Linked DNA regions of Homo sapiens: region 2 is linked to region 1. Evidence: fine-mapped expression QTL. Tissue or cell type: cerebellum. Region 1 holds a variant in brackets; the other region holds the start of a gene. All regions are shown on one strand. Distances are between the middles of the regions.

Region 1 (2,682 bases):
CATCCCTAGCTCCTTCCTACCCCACACCTCCATCTTCTGTTCTAGCTTGCTAATGAAGAGACAATAAAGAACATCACTCACTGGACTCTGTTTAACTATTACAACTCTTCTGGTTGGAACGAGAGTGTCCCCCGACCACCCCTGCACCCTGCAGATGTGCCCCGGGGTTCTTGCTGGGAGACAGCTGTGGGCATTGTGAGTAGTTACACTCTCTAAAAAGGTGACCCCTGTTCTCAGTTCTTTGTTATTCCCTCCTTGATGTTTCCATTTGAGGAATAACCCTGAAAACTTACCAGCTGTTCATCCAGCAAACATTTCATAATCATCTAGGAGGAAATAAAATGACCAAAGCAGATCCTGTGACCCCTGGGAACTCCAAATCTCTTTGGTGTCTCAAAGGTTGTGATTGGTGTCTGGTAGATATTTTCAATTTTTCCAAAAACATAGTAAATTATGTCTATTCTACAAATGCAGAGAAAGCTTTGTCCTTCAGTTTTTGGTCCTTCTTCTATGTGCCTCTGTGCAAAACCTGTTTTATTTTCTCTATATATCAAAAAAAAGAAAAAGAAAAAGAAAAATCTGACTAGCAGAAGATGAAAAAAGCTAGGCATTGTCTCCAGTGACTGACGGTCACATTTGGTCTTAGTGGGGGCAGCTGGCACTTCAGAATAAGTGGGGAAGCAAGGCCTTCGGGTCCTAGTGATGATGACTACGATGCATTGGGCATAGTCAATTTAACAGGCAATTTGCATTTGCATACATAATTACTAAGTTTCACAATAGCCTTTTGAGATTGATATCAATATCAACTTCAAGAGGTTCAGAGATTATTCCAAAGCCATACAATTGGTAATGTGGAGCTGGGACCTAAATTAAGCATTTTCCAGAGCCAGGAGTCGCCTCTCTTCACACACAAAGGATCAGAGGGTCACAGAGACAAAGTCAGGTGGGTGGGGGAGAGTTTATTAGACTCTCAACAAACTCTCAGGGAGGGTGGGAGAAGTGGGCAAGGTCTCCAACCACCCCCTCTTCCTGTGTTCCTCTGCAGGAATTCATGAGGCTGACGGTGTCTGACATGCTGGTAACGTACATCACCATCCTGCTGGGGGACTTCCTACGGGCTTGTTTTGTGCGGTTCATGAACTACTGCTGGTGCTGGGACTTGGAGGCTGGATTTGTAGGTCACCACTTCATGGACATTCCGCACAAAGGAATTTCAACTATCTTCTTTGATACTTATAGCCAGATGCATTCTTGGGCATTTCATTTCTTTGGAAGCTTAATGACGGTCTCTGCTCTGTAGAGTAGTAAAGTGTTTAATTTGTATTTCCTTTAAGGGTCCTATTTGCCTTCATAAGGGAAACTGCTTTTTCCCAGTGTAATGAACAATGTGACCTTCTATTCTAGGAAATGGAGGCATTTGGCCTAGGGGAAAGTGGACCACACACTCCAGTACTGAGCC[A/G]ATGGTTGATAGGGAATTGCATCTGAGCAGCCTCAACTCTCATTATGGGGGCTGAAATCTGACAGTGGAGGCGAATATTTCAGGAAGTCCTGGAACACACCAAGAACACAATAACCATTGGTCCTGTCTTCTGGATGATGCTTTGAGAAACCTCCTTTGACTTGTATTCCCTTATAGCCCTCTTCCCCACCTACCTGGTAAATGTGTGTCATTTCCTCTCTGTAGTGTCCTTCTATGCTCTGGCAGAATCTCTGGCTCAGGCACCTGTGCTGTACATGTCTCTTCCACAACACCTCACTGGCCCAGCCTGCAGTCACTGGTGTGCATGTAAGGTACCTACCTCTTACCTGAGCTCCTGGTGAAAGGCTCCGTAGGATGTTGACCTATGTATCCCTCATCCTGGCCTGGCCCAGGTAAGGGCCCCAGTACAGGTTTCTGTCACATTTTTTTTCGTTCAGTCACCAGTCTCAGTTTTAAACAAGTCTGCTGAGCTCCTCGGCAGCCAGGAAAGCTTCATAATCTTGTCTGAGAACGAAGATGAAAGAACTTTGTGCTCAAAGAGGATGACATCTTTGATAGAAAGACACAATATTACTAAGAGGTCATTGTTCTTAAATTTGTTTGTAAGATCACCACGATTTCCAAATAATACTAAAGTTCATTTGAAAAATAAGCATGTGAGAATATCCAGAAAAAATATTTAAAAAGAAGAATAAGGCCAGGTATGGTGGCTCACACCTGTAATCCTAGCACTTTGGGAGGCCAAATTAGGAGAATTGCTTGAGTCCAGGAGTTCAAGATCAGCCTGGGCAATTTAGCAAGACCCCATCTCTACAAAAAATAAAAAATTAGCTGGGTGTGCTGGTGCATGCCTGTAATCCCAGCTACTCAGGAGGCTAAGGCAGGAGGATCCCTTGATCCCTTGATCACACCACTGCATTCCTGCCTAGGCGACATAGTGAGGCCCTGTCTCAAAAAGTATATAAAGAAAAAATAAAAAGATGAATAAAAGGAACTAGACTTACCATAATACTAAAACATATGATAAAGCTATAATAACTAAAACTGGTACTAGAAAATAGACCAACATGTCAATGGAACAGAATAGAAAGTCCAGAAATAGATACTATCTACATGGGCCTTTAGTTTATGATAAAGGGAGACTTTCAAACACACTGGGGGGAAAGGATTATATTAAAATATATATAAATTATATAAAA
Region 2 (2,682 bases), 77 kb before region 1:
ATCCTGAAATAGGCATCAAAATCACTTTAAATATCTTTCATATAATGACAATATATGCTTCCTAATTAAATAACAAGATTTCATGGCAGGTCTCTAACTATCATAATTTTGAAGTTGTGATAACATGTAAGATATTTTGAGACATCCCCAGTGGTTTAATTGGGAAAAAAAATAACTGTGACTTTTGCTGAGACAAAAATCACATCTTTGCTTACATTCATGATTGAGGGAAATGCTAAATCGCAGTTAAGGCTAGGAAAAGTGAAAGTGTAGTATTTTCTCCATCACTATTCACAAACCCACAGAATTCCATCCACAGCTCTGGGGGTTCCAGGGACTCCAGATTAAGAACTCCACACTCTGAGACCTTATGACTGCCTTCCAGAGGGTCCCTCTGACACTTTAGTGATGGTTTTCAAAGCAGCCAAATCTGTGCCTCCCTGAAGCCAGGGAGGAAAAGCTGCTGAGGGAGGGGGCGGGGGCTGAGCGGGAACATTCATCTGTGTGGGCTCAGGACGCCTGCAGCAGGATCCACAGTGCAGGCTCCCAGGGCCTGGCACAGACTGACTGATTCCAACGCCCAGTGCCACTCCTGGGAGTATGCATTTTATTTTTAAAAATTTATTATTATTATTTTTCTTTTTGTGGAGATGGGGTCTCACTACGTTGCACAGGCTGGTCTTGAGCTCTTGGGCTCAAGCAATCCTCCTGCCTCTGCCTTCCTAAGTGCTGAGATTACAGGTGTGAACCACCACATGCCAGAATCTGCATTTTAAACAGAAGCCCAAGTAATAACTTAAACAAACATTCTAGAATTTCCCTGGTGCTTTGTCCCAATCAGGGACTCAAGATAGTGGGAGAGGGCCTGGGATGCTCCTCACACCTCCTCTGGCTAGAGTGCCAGCGGCATCATTGCCAGGAGATAAGCCTGCAGCTCCTGGCCCCTCCAGGGCCCCTCATGTATAACTGATGCCTGAAACATGAGGCCATGCTGCCTCTTTGCAGGGAAACCTGAGAAGAGGAGTGTGTGGCCGGATTGATGGGCCGGGAACTCGTCGCCTTCCTTCACCCGTCTCTCTCCCCCAAACTTCACCCACCTCCACATTCAATCTCAAACCAAGAAGCCCCGCCTGCTGTCAGGTCTAGGAAGGGAGGCCAGCCACCATGAGGGCAGGAAAGCAGCCCAGGCTGAAGGCGTGCATACAGGAGCACGCTGCGTGAGCCTGTGCAGGACCCCAGCAGTGCTGCTGACCATGAGCCACCAGGTAAAGGGCCTGAAAGAGGAAGGTGAGTCCACGTCCTGATCCTGCGGGGCCCGCCCACAGGGTTCCTGGGCAGCAGCAGGGGATGGGGGAAGCACATATGGTGTTCAGAGGCATAGGGAGGAGCTGGGTTTGAGTCCAGGGCCTGTCCCCTGTGCGCTGAGCGACCTCGGCTGGTTATTCAACCTCTCTGATCCTCACGCATGAGATGGGGGTAGTCATCACCTCCTTGCAGGGCTACTGGAAGGATTCAAGACAACCTGTGCACAGCACCTGTGTTCAGGCCAGCACTGGAGACTGTCACGGCCGATGCATGCTCCTCAGAGCCTGCTGGGGCGTCTCAGCCACCTATTGTCTCGGTTAGGGTTGCCTGTTCCGAGCAAGCCCCTCAGCAGATTTCTATCTGTCTCTGTCTCTGTGCAGGGCAGGGGGTGGGGGATGTTCTGACCTCATGACTGACAGTATCAGACAAATGTGACAGGCAGGGGACTCTATAATTTGCTGAGTAAAATCATTGGAGCTGGGTCCCAGTTTGAGGCAGCCACAAATCAGCTGAGGGGTCCCACAGTGACCGGGGGTCTGCAGGGAGGGGGACTCACCAGAGGCCAGCCATTTGTCAGCAATCCTGTCTCTTACAGCACGAGGCGGAGTGAAAGGGCGGGTGAAGAGCGGCTCTCCACACACAGGTGAGATGGGGTGGTGGGGTCTCTGGGGAGCCTGCAGTGCCTGGGTGCCCTCTGCTTAGCCCAACAGTCCAGCCACCCATCCAACATTCTCCTTCATCTCCTTCCCTCTCATTCAACACCCTGCATGGAGCCTTCCTGGGAGGCAAGGTGTTTAACATGGGAGGGGGCAGAGTACCACTCAGAGAAGGTGCTGCTCAGCCCTCGGTGTCAGGGGAGACTCCCAGGGTTAGTGACACTCTGAGCTGAGCCTTGGGAAGCAGTGAACATTCACCAGACAGAGGGCAGGGAAGCTCGGTGCAGGCTTCTGGCGGGTGGTGTGGCCAGATTCACATCCAGGCCCCCGGACTCTAGGAGGAACACTCTTAACCTCCAAAAAGTAGTAGGCATAATGGGTGCTCCATCACCTTCCCACTGGGAATGTGACCACAGCTCTCCCGTGAGCCGGTGAGGGAGCCAACTTGCTCCAGGAGAAGTGGGAGAGCCCAAGGAAGCCATAGGCGGGAGAGAAAACCCTTGGTTGAGACTGAGGGTTCAGGGGAGAGGGGCAGAAGCCACACTCACAGGCTGGGCATCTTCATGTCACAAAATATTATGGATGCGATGCTGTTTTCTCCCCCTTCACGTCCCAGGCAGGGCTGGGTCCTGCGCCCCACACTAGTAGGCAAGAAACCAGAATCTTGGGGAGTGATGGGGTTCTGGGGGGTTGGAAGAGATCTCCTTCCTCCCCCATTCTG

Which allele goes with the higher level. Alleles are on the strand shown, and positions count from the first base shown. SD is a standard deviation of normalised expression in the study named.
With allele G in place of A in region 1, the expression in cerebellum of the gene that starts at base 1,205 in region 2 is higher (moderate effect, 0.63 SD a copy in GTEx).

What was found. PIP is the estimated chance that this variant, and not a neighbour inherited with it, causes the effect.
Region 2: it holds the start of TMC2, and the variant in region 1 is fine-mapped to the expression of TMC2 in cerebellum (GTEx, PIP 0.98).

What each region holds. Positions count from the first base shown.
Region 1 is chr20:2,612,146-2,614,827 of GRCh38, forward strand. TMC2 (transmembrane channel like 2) reads left to right here. Exons shown (of 20, transcript NM_080751.3): 13 at 46-195; 14 at 1,049-1,177. It overlaps LOC105372505 (a long non-coding RNA gene), which reads right to left. Exons shown (of 5, transcript XR_007067502.1): 5 at 1,901-1,987. Among named protein-coding and RNA genes, the nearest start is that of NOP56, 39 kb to the right of the region's middle. The variant A/G (reference allele first, on the strand shown) is at 1,463.
Region 2 is chr20:2,535,369-2,538,050 of GRCh38, forward strand. It overlaps TMC2 (transmembrane channel like 2), which reads left to right and starts at 1,205. Exons shown (of 20, transcript NM_080751.3): 1 at 1,205-1,287; 2 at 1,901-1,948. The coding sequence starts at 1,254. All of the region lies in intron 2 of LOC105372504 (a long non-coding RNA gene), which reads right to left.